3 separate regions of the Homo sapiens genome follow, and all the other regions are linked to region 2. Evidence: fine-mapped expression QTL. A gene starts in region 2. Each other region holds a variant in brackets. All regions are shown on one strand. Distances are from middle to middle. Region 1 has its middle 24 kb from the start of SMAD9. Region 2 holds the start of ALG5 (ALG5 dolichyl-phosphate beta-glucosyltransferase). Region 3 overlaps ALG5 (ALG5 dolichyl-phosphate beta-glucosyltransferase).

What was found. PIP is the estimated chance that this variant, and not a neighbour inherited with it, causes the effect.
Region 1: its variant is the best candidate, but not a certain one, in a credible set for the expression of ALG5 in thyroid (GTEx, PIP 0.60).
Region 3: its variant is the best candidate, but not a certain one, in a credible set for the expression of ALG5 in whole blood (INTERVAL, PIP 0.80).

What each region holds. Positions count from the first base shown.
Region 1 is chr13:36,941,719-36,946,946 of GRCh38, forward strand. No RefSeq gene overlaps it. Among named protein-coding and RNA genes, the nearest start is that of SMAD9, 24 kb to the left of the region's middle. The variant C/T (reference allele first, on the strand shown) is at 2,167.
Region 2 is chr13:36,996,270-37,001,497 of GRCh38, forward strand. ALG5 (ALG5 dolichyl-phosphate beta-glucosyltransferase) reads right to left here and starts at 3,071. Exons shown (of 10, transcript NM_013338.5): 1 at 2,966-3,071. The coding sequence starts at 3,031. It overlaps EXOSC8 (exosome component 8), which reads left to right and starts at 4,517. Exons shown (of 11, transcript NM_181503.3): 1 at 4,517-4,553. The coding sequence starts at 4,537. RefSeq lists a silencer at 2,987-3,286 and enhancers at 3,747-3,796, 4,257-4,346, 4,547-4,806, 5,027-5,086.
Region 3 is chr13:36,950,615-36,955,842 of GRCh38, forward strand. ALG5 (ALG5 dolichyl-phosphate beta-glucosyltransferase) reads right to left here. Exons shown (of 10, transcript NM_013338.5): 9 at 1,900-1,985. Among named protein-coding and RNA genes, the nearest start is that of SMAD9, 33 kb to the left of the region's middle. The variant T/C (reference allele first, on the strand shown) is at 2,916.

The sequences.
Region 1 (5,228 bases), 55 kb before region 2:
GGGAGGCTGAGGCAGGAGAACCGCTTGAACCCAGGAGATTGCAGTGAGCTGAGATCACACCACTGCACTCTAGCAGGGGAGACAGAGCAAGGCTCCGTCTCAAAAAAAAAAAAAAAGGCAAAAAACGAAAAAGAATGACAAAGATCAAAAGGAACTGACAGTATATAAACTATCTTCCCAGATGGAGGTGATTTTACTTACATTGTAGTTGTGCATTGTGCATGCGGAGTCCCATAGAGATGCAACAATTTAGGGGAAATTTTCCTAATTTTAGACTGCAAAGATTCATCCTTCCTCAGAACATATCTGGCTTCTTGATCTCATATTATTTGCATTGCAATTTAAATGTTTAACATATTCCTTTCTTTCTAAGTAGATCCCTCGAGAATAGACATTTTTTTAAAGTAGAACTGCTAGGCATTCAATCATTGAGTGGATGATGGAAGGACTTACACTTCATAGTGTATATAGTGCGATGTTAAGGACTTTTATTTTCCTTACAATTTTATTTCAAAAGATTTAAATAAATTCACACCACTGGAGAGTTGGGACATGTTTTGCAATTACTATAGCTTTGGGGCCCTAGGTTTTACTATTTCTGCGATGATAGAAAAAGCTGCAGTGACATTCATCTACCCTGCACAGAGGTACATGTTGTTACTGTAATATTAATGGGTCAGAGATATAGACCTTATGACTTTGTTTTCCCCAGCAGTATTTTTGGTCTTTTTTTTTTTTTTTTTTTTTTTGAGATGGAGTTTCGCTCTTTCACCCAGGTTGGAGTGAAGTGGCATGATCTTGGCTCACTGCAACCTTCATCCCCCGGGTTCAAGTGATTTTCCTGCGTCAGCATCCCGAGTAGCTGAGATTACAGGTGCCCACCACCAGGCCCGGCTAATTTTTGTATTTTTAGTAGAGACAGGGTTTTGCCATGTTGACCAGGCTGGTCTCAAACTCTTGACCTCAAGTGATTTACCCGCCTCTGCCTCCCAAAATGCTGGGATTATAGGCGTGAGCCACCGCGCCTGGCCCCAGCAGTATTTTTGAGGTGCATTGTGATACTGCTCAGGTAAGGACCTCTTTTGTTCCCCTTTGTCCTTTCTCAGTACTATCAGAATTTAGACAGGATCAAATCTAGGTAAAGTATTATGTTTTGTGACCATCAAAATACTAACTGGAGTTTTACTTCAAAATCAGCGAATCAAAAAGATATCACTTATTAGAGTCTATTATTGGATTAACAAAATAAATTTATCAATTTGTGGATTTGGCACTTTTGAGACTGCACAAAAACAAACAAAAAACTGCACAAAAACACAATCAAAGCATTTTTGAGACTGCACAAAAACAAAAACAAAGCAGTCCTCTAGACTTCTTCTTCAGGGGATTTAATTGTCAATAAAATGGATAATCTCGTTCATAGAATTATTTTTTCGATGAGTGAATTGAAATGGTAGCATTATCTAACCATTTCCTTTATTGAACAATCACAATTTAGGATGCTGTAGAGACAAACAAATAAAATAAAGGCAAAGTTTCTGCTCTTAAGGAAATTATAACTGATATGGTTTAGTTTTGTGTCCCCACCCAAATCTCATGTCAAATTGTAATCCCTAGTGTTGGAGGAGGGACCTGGTGGCAGATGATTGGATCTTAGTGGTAGATTTTCCCCTTGCTGTTCTCATGATAGTGAGTGAATTCTCAAGAGACATGGATGTTTAAAAGTGTATGGCGCCTCTCCGTTTGCTCTTTTCCTCCTTCTCCAGACATGATTGTAAGTTTCCTGAGGCCCTTCACCTTCTGCCATGATTGTAAGTTTCCTGAGGCCCTTCACCTTCTGCCATGATTGTAAGTTTCCTGAGGCCTCCTCAGTTATGCTTCCTGTACACCTGTGGAACTATGAGTCAATTAAACCTCTTTTTTTTTTTTTAAATAAATTACTCAGTCTCAGGTAGTTCTTTATAGCAATCTGAGAAAGGACTAATAAAATAACTGAATAAAGAAGGTGGAACATAGAACTGGAGAATCAACTACGAGTAGAAGTACAGTGCACCCCTGAACGATGCAGGGGTTTGGAGTGCTAACCCCTGTGTAGTTGATAATCCATTAACTTTGACTCCCTCAAAACTTAACTACTAATAGCCTGCTATTGACTGGAAACTTTAC[C/T]GATAACATAGTGTATTAACACATATTTCCTAAATTATATGTATTATATATTGCGTTCTTACAATAAAGTATGCTAGAGAAAAGAAAATGTTATTAAGAAAACCATAAGTAAGAGAAAATATATTTAACATTCATTAAGTGGAAGTGAGTCGTCATAAAGGCCTTCATTCTTGTCTTCACATTGAGTTGGCTGAGGAGTAAGAGGAGGGGTTGGTCTTGCTGTCTCCCAGGTGACAGAGGCAGAAGAGGTGGAGGAGGTGGAAGGGGAGGCAGGAGAGGCAGGCACCCTTGGTGTGACTTCATGGAAATATTAATATATCATAATTCTGGTCTGATTTTTTTTCATTTCTCTAAAAATGTTTCTCTACAGTACCAATCCTTCTTCTACCATTTGCTTTAGTTTCAGTGCCCATATTGTGGAAGGGTCCAAGTTGTAAAAGAAGTCACAAGCAGACTTCAATAATTGGAGTCCTGCTTCTTGTATGTCTTCTTCTGCATCATCTGGCACTGGTTCAGAAGCACTCATCTTCATCAAGTCATCTTCTGCTAACTCCACTGGTGTTGTCTCTATTACCTGTTGAATTTCTCCAACATCCATATCTCAAAACTGTTCACCTGCCATCTTTTTTTTTTTGCCCTATCCACAATCTCTTTCATGATTTCTTTGATTGGCTCTGTCATAAATCCTGTGAAGTCATGCACAACATCTGGACACAGTTTTCTGCAGGAATTATTGTTTCATACTTGGTGACTTTCACAGCTTTTATTTTTCTATAACGATGGCTTGCATCTTCAATGGTATAATTCTTTCAGACTTTTTTTTTTTTTTTTTGAGAGACAGGGTCTTGCTCTGTTCCCCAGGCTGGAGTGCAGTGGTGTGATGACAGCTCACCACAGCCCCAAACTCCTGGGCTCAGGCAGTCCTCCATCCTCAGCCTCCCGAGTAGTGAGGACTACTGGCTGCACCAACCACCATGCCCAGCTAATTTTTTAATTTTTTTGTAGAGATGGGATCTTGTTATGTTGCCCAGGCTGGTATTGAACTCCTGACCTCAAGTGATCCTCCCACCTCGGCCTCCCAAAGTGCTGGGATTACAGACGTGAGCCACCAGACCCCAACCCCTTCCAGCCTTTCATGTCCTGTTGGGCTTTTGTTCTAGCATTGACAATCCTTTCTATAGAGAACTGTGTGTAATGAGCCTTCAAGGTCCTATGACTCCCTGATGTAAAGGCTGAATTAGAGACATTGTGTTTGGGGGCAAGTAGACAACTGCTAAGCCTTCCGTGTTGAACTCATGACGTTCTGGGTGATCAGGGGCATTGTCCAATGTCAAAAGAACCTTAAAAGGCAATTTCTCACTGGCAGGGTACTTTTTGACTTCAGGGACAGAACATCAATGCAGGCAATCCAGAGAAAGGGGTATCATTGTCCAGGCCTCCTTGTACAACCAGAAGACTGGGAGCTGATGTTTATCATTTCCTTTCAGGATTTAGCAGCTTTACAGATAAGGGCAGTCCTGATCATAAACCCGATTGCATTTGTACAAAACAGCAGTTAGCCTGTTTCTTCCTGCCTTAAATCCTGGTGCTTGCTTCTCTTCCTAATAAATGTCCTTTGTGGCATTCCACCCCCCCACCCCCCAGATTAGGGCACTTTCGTCTGCATTAAAAACCTGTTTAGGCAGATATCCTTTCTCCTCAATGATTTTCTTAATGGTGTTTGGGAACTCGTGTGTTACCTCCTGGATCAGCAGAAGCTGCTTCTCCCTTATCTTGACTTTTTTTTTAAAAGCCAAACCTCTAAAATGAACCATTCATTTCTGGCATTAAATTCCCCAGCTTTAGATCCTTCACCTTCCTTTAACTTGTCATATGATGACTTTGCCTTTTTGTGAATCATATTAGAGTCTATAGGTATGTCTTTCTTATAGCAATCCTGTACCCACTTAAAAGCTGCATTTTCAATATGAGAGAAAAGGTATTTTGCAAAAATTGCAAGATTTTTGTACCTGCAGATGTAGTAGTGGCAATGGATTCACAAATTTTCTTTTTTTTTTCCCCAATAGTCCTTACACTATTTATTTATTTTTTTGAGACAGTCTCGCTCTGTCACCTAGGTTGGAGTGCAGTGGTGCAATCTCGGTTTGCTGCAACCTCCCTCTTCCGGGTTCAAGTGAGTCTTGTGCCTCAGTCTCCCAAGTAGCTGGGATTACAGGCACCCGCCACCACGCCTGGCGAATTCTTGTATTTTTAGTAGAGATGGGGTTTCACAATGATGGCCAAGCTGGTCTTGAACTACCTCAGGTGATCCGCCTGCCTCGGCCTCCCAAAGTGCTGGGATTATAGGCATGAGCTACCATGCCTGGCTTGGATTCATTTATCTTGAAATGGTGAGCAACCTCAGCTGCAGCCCTCATCTATGGTACATATCAAGCAATTCAACTTTTTCTTGTAATGTCATGACTTTTCTCTGCTTCTTGGGAGTATTTCCAGCATTACTAATGGTACTTCATATCGGTCCCATGGTGTTATTCAAGGTTTACAGTATTGCACTAAACATGAAAAACACATGAGAACTCCAAGAGCTCAATTTCTACTGTTATATGCAATTTACTGGAGAGATGAACTGCTCATATGGAGATGGTTAGTGTCACACAGCATATAAGTGGATATTTACAACACCTGAGCTCATGCAATAGCAACAGGAGGTGGCTACGAAATTATTAATTTTATGCAGTTATGATTTAATACTGCATTTTTTTTTTTTGAGACGGAGTCTCACTCATGTCACCCAGGCTGGAGTGCAGTGGCGTGATCTTGGCTCACTGCAACCTCCACCTCCCCAAGTGATTTTCCTGCCTCAGCCTCCCAAGTAGCTGGGATTACAGGCACCTGCCACCATGCCCAGCTAATTTTTGTATTTTTAGTAGAGATGGGGTTTCACCATGTTGGCCAGGCTGGTTTCGAACTCCTGACCTCAGGTGATCCACCCACCTTGGCCTCTCAAAGTGATGGGATTACAGGTGTGAGCCACCGCGCACAGCCTAATACTGCATCTTTGT
Region 2 (5,228 bases):
TTTCTATTGGTACACTTTCTGCTTTCAAAACAGTCTTTAAATTTTTGGAATGCTATTCATTTGTAATTTAATGATCAATTTGAAGACATTATCAAATTGTCATTGTCATCAGCTCCTGAGGTTTGATCTTTGAGGTCTGATCTTTACTGCCATCATCAACTACTATCACTTCAGAGATTATAAGATTATAATCAAAGATTATCAAAGATTATAAGGGCTGTGCTGAAAGGACAAAGTAGTCAACCTGAATGGGCTCTCAGTGGCCTATGATGCAAGAATCTGATCGTCCTCCCACTTCCCCCCTGCCAAAAAAAATTACTGCAATGGATCAAACCATGAAAAATACTGTAAATCATAAATTTGCAATGATACTAAAGACAAAAACTGGGTAAGATGCAGGAAGGATCTCATTTCAAAAATTTGCCTTTTGCGTTTTATATGTATGAAAGGTATTTTAGGGTAAATGAATAGCTGAGGATGAGATTTCTTTCATTACAAAACTCTAGGTAATAAATGAAGGATACAATGAGAATATTTCACTTTGCAACCCGCAATGAAATAAAGCATTTAGGTAATGATCCTCAATGACTACTAAAACCATTAGGCTGATGACAAACTTTATAAACTGGTGGGTCTGGCTGGCAACATTTGAAACCACAGATCCATCTTAACACCAGAGACAAATGGCCATTACATGACTCCTGATGAGACACAAGAGAAAGGAAGAAGCATCACTCACAATTTTTTCTTGATTAAAAAACACATCGAGTATGTATGTGATCAGGTCTCTCCATCCTAACTACCAGTTTATAGAAAATTTGAGATAGAAGATGTTAAAAGGCATTAAGGGGATGCAATCAAAGAAATCCAAATTGTGAGAAGTTCTACAGGACAAATGATCATATTAAAGACAAGGAAAAAGGCCGGGCGCGGTGGCTCATGTCTGTAATCCCAGAAGTTTGGGAGGCCGAGGAGGGTGGATCACCTGAGTTCAGGAGTTCGAGACCAGCCTGGCCAACATGGCGAAACCCCATCTCTATTAAAAGTACAAAAATTAACCGGGAGTGGTGGTAGGCGCCTGTAATCCCAGCTACTCAGGAGGCTGAGGCAGGAGAATTGCTTGAGGGCAGAGGTTGCAGTGAGCCAAGATCACACCACTGCACTCCAGCCTGGGTGACAAGAGCCAGACTCCGTCTCAAAAAAAAAAAAAAAAAAAAAAGACAAGGAAAAGAAAAAAAGGGGGAGGAGAAACTGTCAACTGATTAAGAGACTCAAGACATCAACAGAGTACAATGTGTGGCACTTGTTTGGATCCTGATTGGAACAAACAGACATATATACTGAGACATATATGAGACAAGTGAGGGCAAGTGAACTGAGGGGGCATTTGAAATCACAGAATAAATTTAAATCTGTGACCACTTTATTGTGGTATTTTAAAAAGAAGGACCTTATCTGTTAGAAATAAATGCTGAGGATTTAAAGATAAAATGTCTTCGAGTTGTTTTAAAATAATTCAGAAAGGAGGTGAGACTGTGAGTAATGGAGAGTGGATACATATGAAGACAGGATGAGGTTTTGAAAAATTATTTTTTTAATGATTTCTTGCTCTGGCATTTAAAAAACCTAAGTTTCACTAGTTGTGCAACATTTGAGTACACGAGCTCATTTCTCCAACATGTTTCCTCACCAGTAAAATAATGCTAATGATAACATATATGTCACAGTGTTAAAGATTTAATAACTCCTATTAAACCAAGTGCAACACAACATATAGTAAGTACTACAATCAATAAATGGTAGCTCTTATCACTTCAAGCTAGTGGGAACAAATACCGTCAGTACAATCCCATAAAATCTGTGCAAAAGACCCAAAGTAAGGCAGCTTCAATCTAAGAATGTGTGAATCCACTCCCCGCCCGCACCCCGCCAAAAATCAATCAATCAATCAATCAATCCTGGTTTGCTCAAAAACTTGAAAAAACAAAAAAGCCCTAAACCCTGAAATCTCTACTAGTTAGGGCAAGAGAGGACTCCTCTCTCACCCAGATACTATCAACAAAGAAGTAAGGATGCATTACATTTTATCTAAACTGTAAATTTATACAACCTCTGGAAAGATGGCAGAGTGGCCTTCCTGGCAGTGCTGTCTAGGTGGCTAATCTGAATGTCAAGGAAGCTGAAATCCTCTCCACTTACTAACTAGAGGGCAGGCTCATTCCAAGGTGTGCGGGAGAGAGTTCGCCAATTTTCTACCACTTAACAATCAGCAAGTGTTTACAATGTTTTTGTGTTTCGAGAGCAAGGGCAAAGACAATCGAGTTTGCATTCTATCGTCCTGCCTTGTTTAGGGGCAGTATATTTAGGGTGCTTAATTCTGGGACACAATGCGACCCCGGACAAGGCGCCTGAGGCCTGTCTCTCTCGCTCACCCTGCGTCCCTAGTGGGTCTCATCGATCCACGCATTTATTCCCATTTGTAACAGATGGCTGCCGTCAAGGCTCCGTCACCCCTATTTGCTTAACCACATCAGCCAAGGGAGCAGGCTAGGGAGCACACCCCTTCTGGGGGCTCGAGACCTCCCTGGGTGGAGCAGAACTGCAGCGGCTGCAGGTCCCGGAGAGTCTGGGAGAGGTCGAGGTTGACAGAGGAGGTGGGTAGGGGGCGCGGGCGCCAGGGGCGATGGAAGCGGCGATGATGCCAGGCCGGGTGGGTGCGCTCCAGTGTGAAAAAACTTACAAGTCTCTGAGCACACAAAGAGATAAGATTCCAAGGGAAAATTAAAGAACCGAAGAAAAGGAGAGTGAAACTCCAGGAAACTCCGAGGTCAGGAATTTGGGGGAATCTAGGGGAAAAGGGACTTCTCCGAGAACTGGTAGCGCGGAGGAGGGGACGCCTGAGGAGCCGCAGTCTCCAGGAGAGCGGTAAGCCCCGGCCTGCGCGGGTTCCCATCCCTGTTCTCACCAGTACGAGGGCTGCGGCCGCCAGCGCCGCGCCGAGCACCGCCAGCTGCAACAGAAGCGGAGCCATTCTCCATGCCGTGGCAGCCCGCCCAATCCCGCACCTCCACACAGGCGGAAGCGCGCCCGCGCGACCCGGCCCCGCCGCCAGAGAGGTCGCGCCCGCTGGCCGCAGCGCCCCCGCGTGGCGAGGCGGAGAAAACGCCGCTCTCGTGCCCTCGGCGCCCAGTCGGTGGAGAGGAGCGCTAGGTTCCACAGCGGGGCGCCAGGTTTATCAAGTATGCAAGACGTCTACTTAATTTGAATTTCAGATTAAAAAACTAATCATGTTTTTAACAGCCTTATTAAGATAGCCACATACCATACGACTCATCCAGTTACAGGTTTCTGGTTTATTACATTAGTTTTTATAAACTGTGGTAAAATAAAAAGTTGCCATTTTAATCATTTTAAGTTTACAATAGTGAGTGGCATTAATTACATACATACTGTGCAACCATCACCACTATCTATCTGTAAAGCCTTCCCAGCTCCCTCCAGGTTCTGGCAACAACTAATTGCATGCTCTATTTGGGGCATACTCATGCTTTAAAAAAAAAAAAACCCACAAAAAAACAAAAACAAAAAACAAAAAAACCACGCTGTGTTTATCAGACATTCAAATTTAACGTGGTATCCTGTATTTTATCTGGTAACCCCACCTAGGAGGGAGATGGCAGCCTTGAGCACGACACAGTCTACAACACAAGGTGATGCTTAGGAGCCCTCAGCTCCGGGACCTGCAGAGCAGAACGTGGTGCGGACAATGAGCGCACAGAAAGTTCAGGTTTCTCGGCCGAGCGCCGTGGCTCACGCCTGTAATCCCAGCACTTTGGGAGGACGAGGCGGGCGGATCACAAGGTCAGGAGATCGAGACCATCCTGGCTAACACGGTGAAACCCCGTCTGTACTAAAAATACAAAAAATTAGCGGGGCGCGGTGGCGGGCGTCTGTAGTTCCAGCTACTCGGGAGGCTGAGGCAGGAGAATGGCGTGAACCCGGGAGGCGGAGCTTGCAGTGAGCCGAGATCGCGCCACTGCACTCCAGCCTGGACGACAGAGCGAGACTCTGTCTCAAAAAAAAAAAAAAAAAAAGTTCAGGTTTCTCATGTGTTGGAGCACGGAGCCCTTGACCAGTGAAGAGGCAAGGCCAGGGCTGAGCCTAAGTCACAGGCAGAAAAAAGACGCAGAAACATTGGAATAACGCTCCACACGCACTGCTTGATTCTGCGCTAGAAACCCTGTTATCTCCGAACTGTTGGTGTTATTCTGAGTCACAGCACCAGCTCTTTTATAAAGAGGGAGACCCGCTCCTTCTTTAACAGCAGATTCGTCAAAATACGTCCAAGGCAAGGAAACCTAGAAAGGCGTCTGGGCAGGGGAAAGTCGATGCGAGGGCGGGCCAGGGACCTTTCGTCGCGTCCCCACCTTGGCATTTCCCGTGGCGTGAGCGGCCCCGGCATCCGTGTCGAAAGTGCGGCGGCGGAACAGGCGCGCAGGAGAGGAGCGGCGCAGGCGCAGACGCGCGGGCGGGAAGATGGCGGCTGGGTTCAAGTGAGTGTTGGCGGGTGGCGGGTAGAGTTCTGTACCCTGGCGGACGGCAGCTTCCTTTAACTCTTAGCTGGGATTCTCTCACCTGGAGGCCGACCCCGTTGGGGTGCCATTTCCTTCCTCGTCGAGGCAGACGATGGGCGGGAGGACCTGGAGGTTGTCACAGTGAAAAGAAAGGGCTTCTTCCTCAGTGAGACGGGAGATGAAAGGACTCTGTAGAGTTCCATACCCGCTGCGAGCGCTCGTGAGCGTGGTGTGTAGTGAACGTGCAGTCCCAGGAGACATAGTTGTAATCTTTTAAAGATTGTGGCCGGGCGCGGCGGTTCACGCCTGTAATCCCAGCACTTTGGAGGACGAGGCGGGCGGATCACCTGACGTCAGGAGTTCGAGACCAGCCTGGTGTACATGGTGAAACACTGTCTCTAATAAAAATATAAAAATTAGCCGGGCGTGGTGGCGGGCGCCTGTAGTCCCAGCTACTCAGGAGGCTGAGGCAGGAGAATCGCTTGAACCCGGGAGGCAGAGGTTGTAGTGAGCCGAGATCGCGCCACTGCACTCCAGCCTGGGCGACAGAGTGAGACTCTGTCAGAATCAATCAATCAAGATTGTTGCATCAGAACCACATACCGCCTGCTTCTCCCTCTCCCGTAATTTATTTCTAAAAGGATCATGCCTCGT
Region 3 (5,228 bases), 46 kb before region 2:
TGTCACCCAGGCTGTAGTGCAGTGACACGATTATGGCTCACTGTAACCTTGACCTCCCGGGCTCAAACGATCCAGTCCTCCTACCTCAGCCTCCCCAGTAGCTGGGAGTACAGGAGGCACGCACCACACCTGCCTAATTTTACAATTTTTTTATAGAGATGAGGTCTCACTGTGTTGCCCAGGCTGGTCTCAAACTCCTAGGCTCAAGTGATCCTCCCAACTTAGGCTCCCAAAGTGCTGGGATTACAGGCATGAGTGACTGCACCCAGCCACAGCAGATTCTTATAACCATTACTTATAGTATATACGTGCAGATAAAGTATCAGGAGGAAGGTTTAACATTTCATTATCATTTTAATTATACTTTATATTTAAAGAAGACCTTTTTCACTGCTCTGAATTTATATGACAGCTTTCTTCTGAAAACATTACCACCAAAGCACTGTAGAGACATTATCGTTTATCAGGGCCAAAAATTATCTTCATCCCACAAATGAGGAAGTTGAGGTACCTACAATTCATATTACAAGACAACTATCTCTGTAATGCAAATAAGCAAATGACTAAACATAAAATGGACTTTTACTTTTCCCCACCTCATCTTCCCATAGAGTCTAGGTTGGCCAAAGATCAACACAAATCAACAAAGTTGATCATGATACCCCTGAGTGATCCTTTGACCTGCTTCCCAATCCCCTTTGATTCTAGGCAGCTACTGTGGAGATGAGCTAAGATTTTGTAAACTCAGTTTGATTCAGCAAGATGTAAAGAGGTTTGAATTCATCCTAGACTATACAGTTTGTATAATCTCGAGATTGGTTCTTAACCTTTTTCTGTCCCTAAACATCTGAGGTTACAGAGCAATAATGGTTTACTGCAACAAGGACTCTCACCAGAAGAGCTGGACTTCGAAAAAGTCTCCAGTTGATTATGTTAACTGCTCCCACACTGTGAATTAATTTAGGTTCATTCTAAGGTAAGGAGAAAACTAGAATATGTTTAAAATTCTATACAGCCAGAGCTGTCTAAGCCTTTTAAAATAGGAATTATTAAGATTTATGATAGATTTCAAGTTATTATAGAGTTGGGATCTTTATACTTTTGGATATATGTACAGATATAGTTTTTAAATGGCTCTGGATTGACTGTGGACATTTGGAGTAAAAACACTTTTAGTTATTTATTTTTTCAGATGGAGTTTCACTCGTTGCCCAGGCGGGAGTGCAATGGTGCAATCTTGGCTCACCGCAACCTTTGCCTCTCGGGTTCAAGCAATTCTTCTGCCTCAGACTCCTGACTAGCTGGGATTACAGGTGCCTGACACCACGCCCGGCCATCTTTTTGTATTTTTTAGTAAAGACGGGGTTTCACCCTGTTGGCCAGACTGGTCTTGAACTCCTGACCTTAGGTGATCCACCCCCTCGGTCTCCGAAAGTGCTGGGATTACAGGCATGAGGCATGGTGCTCGGCCATAAAAAAAATTTTTATTTCTTATTTAGCTTTGCATAGTGGTTTGCAGGTACCTAATTAATATCCACCTAGTGATAAAAAAAATATAGGAAATGGTGATGCAAAAAATAAATTTATCTATCTCAAAAGACTATCAACCTTCTAATTTCAGATCACCATGACTTTGTCTATTGTAGGAAGTTTTATTGAAGTTTCTTCGACAAGGTAGTAGGCCTACTGAAGGCCCCATGAACAGACAAAAAATATAAAAGGCAGCAAGCCAGATGGAAGGTATTAGTAGGTACTATTCTCCTTGGAACTGGATCTTTGAGTCAAGACAGCTGAGAAGGGCTTGATGAGGGGAGCAAGGAGAACATTAAAGCCAGCTGACTTTACTAAACAACTGTATTATCTGACTCAAGACAATCATACAATAAACAATATACTCACCTTCAATTTCTGTCCAGTTGACAGCAATTTCTGCTATTGGAATTTTAAAGAACTGTGCTATGTACAGTAGTTCTACATCAAATGCCCTAAAATAGAAAATATATTGATATTTATTTTTAAAGACAAATAGAACACAACTACATCTCTACCTTGGCATGTTTTAAAGAAGCTTACATGGCAGATATAAAGCTTATACCATAAATCTGAAGATCAGATTCACAGAAATCAAATAATTCAAAGCTGAGTAGTTCAGAAGTTTCAAGTCAAATAATAATTTAGAATATCATTGCATAATATTGTATCTCTATTACAACTCAGAAACTCACAGAGGTAAAACTAGCCTCATGGGTTCCAAGAAAAAATTTAATCCTGGAAAATTTCAAGATTGATGGTTTTCAATCCTAACCTTAACTGGACTAGCTCAAGGTAAAGAACTGACATTTTCAACTGATTCAGACAGCTGATAAAACAAAACTCTGAGATGCTCTAGTTGAGACTGTTTTACATTACTTTAGAGTTGGTTGCCTATTTTCTTCTACCATCAGAGGATCCAGATTACTTTTCTAATAGTGTCCCCAGGGCCTTCCTTGTCTTTTCTGTTCCCCTTCCCTGTGGTGTCCTGCACAATATAATACTGGCAACTATTGAAAGTAAAAAGCTACTTTGGACTAGTCTGAAATACTCTTTGGGTATAATTAATACATACATAGGAATCTGATATATTGTCTTACTTGTCCTAATATATACTGTTAAAACCATTTCCAGTCTAAATCTCCAGTGTATCCTTCCTTCCACTTACGAAAGGTCTTTCTTAAAGCCTCTTTTCAGTCAGTGCCTTGGCTTAGGTCAAACCTGCTTTCCTTAAAGGTTCTGAATCCTGACTCATAAGTTTTCCTGGATTCTGCTTACAAAATTTCTCTGAACTAGTTGCTTCTCTCACTGGTATTAAAGCTCAGGAAGAAAAGCACTACTACCTGTTAAATCTTCTTCATCGTCATTGAAACTGTCTAAAGTCC[T/C]TGACTGTTTTGCCTTCATCCATGAGTCAGTCCCCACTTTCTAGGCTGCACAGAGCACAGTTCAAACTTCTAGGGCCTGGTGTAAAACATTATTAATACAGACAAGAAAATGCCTAAAGTCCACTTATATTTGATTTCTCCAATCCCAGACAACTTGAATTTGGGAGATTTTTTGGTTTTTTGCCACAATACCATAATCATCCATTAGGTAAATAGTTTAAATTCCAAGTATTATGATAAAACCACTTACAAAAGTGGGTTGTATTTTAAAACTTTCGTCCCCTAGAATTGTGATACTTATGAAAAAAGAAATAATTTCAATATTAAGCCTGGTGCTTTACCCTTAACTTTCCTTTTAACACAAAAACAAAATATTAGCTAGTGGGCTGAGTTAGTTCTAATGATACTTGATAACCTGAAAAAGATTATTATATATTATTTCTAAGGATATCAGTATATAGCTAGTGACTTATCAAATACACAAAACAATTGAGTAAAAAAGAGTGGGGTGGTTAACTGAAATCACCTTATATTAAAAAAAAAATCCTAGACCAAAAGGGTTTTTCGGTTTGTTTTAAACAGGGTCTTACTCTGTCATCCAGGCTGGAATGCAGTGGCGCAATCAGGGCTCACTGCAGCCTCAACCTCCCTGGACTCAGGTGATCCTCCCACCTTTGCCTCCTGAACATCTGGGAGCATAGGCCCAGATATTCCTTACTAGTCCTATAATTTTATCTTCTTCTTTTCTAGTTTTGTTCTTTTGAGATTTCCTCAATTTTATTATCTAGCCCTCTTTTTGAATTTTCATCTCTGTGCCACCATGCCTGGTTAATTTTTGTATTTTTTGTAGAGAAGAGGTTTCATTATGTATCCCAGGTCTTGAACTCCTGGGCTTAAATGATCCGCCTGGCTTGACCTCCCAAAGTCCTGAGATTACAGGCTTGAGCCACTGTGTCTGACCCAAAATTAAATTATGTCTTTCTCCTCTTAAACATTTTAGAAGACATTTATTACACATACAAAAAAATGCAGCTCATATCATCATATTATAAGTGCCCAGTCTGTTACCTAAGCAAACATTTTAACTAAAATACCAAGTACTTCTATACAGAGCCTTATGTTATTAGGGGGAAACAGTATAAGGGTTATTCTCCAACTAAGATGCCTTCATTTGTTTATGCAAATATGGGTTGGGCTGAGCCACTGTGTTTTCTTTTCTTACTCAGTTCCTGGTACAGCTGTTATCTCACTAACAGATTCCTAAAGGACAAAAAATATGCTGAGACCCTGTTAAACCCACCAGATGGACATGAACCCCACTGCTGCCTCCTGCAGCCCTATCAAAATTAACACAACAATATGGAATAAACATATAAGAACAAAGATGGGAGGAAATGATAATAAAAATAAAAAAAACCTTGGAAGTTGTAGGGAACATGGACAGGACAGTGGGAGAAGGGTGCCACAGAGCACCCCAGAGGCTCAGGCATTGAAGGCCTCAACTGATGTCTTCAGGTGAAGACACAGGTGGGGCTGCAAGTAGGACTCACTGAACATCTAAGATTTTCCTTCCCTTCATGCCTTTTCTCTGTTGGTTCTGTGAATGCTAACAGCCAGGCTCACAGCTCCTAGGCAGGAGATTGAAGGACTCTACTTTCATGAAAATGACCTGTCCAAAAGACAATGCCAGTTGGGACTTTCTCACACGTAGCTCTGCTGGTTTAACCTGTAGCGAAATTTACCAATCAGAGGCTCTGCGCATGGACACAGCTTCTACTGAGTGTTTTAGTGCCATACTATAGACATGTGAAGAATGAGTGTTAAAAAGAAACACAAAATCAGAGGCAACAGAAACAATGCAGGTAAAGAAAATGACAAAGTTTTAAATAAGATATTCAGAGGTAGTGGAAGACACTGTAGTCATGCAACAAGAATAGGTTTTTTAAAAAGTTAATACTGAAAAACAAAAAAAAAGAGTTCTAGGAAATTACAATTTTGATAGCAGAGATAAAAATTCAAAAAGAAGATTGGATAATAAAATTGAGGAAATCTCAAAAGATCAAAACTAGAAAAGAAGAGAGAAGATAAAATTACAGGACTAGTAAGGAGGTTCCACATCTGTTTGTAAGAGAGCAGAGAAAATGAACAGAGATTGTGAAAAAAAAAAAAAAAAAAAAAAAAAAGATTAAGAAACATTTCTCAGAACTAAAGGACATGACTTTTCAATAGATGGTGTTGGGAAAACTGGATATCCCTATGCAGAAGGACGAAACTGGACCCTTATATCAAAAAACTAAAACAAAAACAAACCTC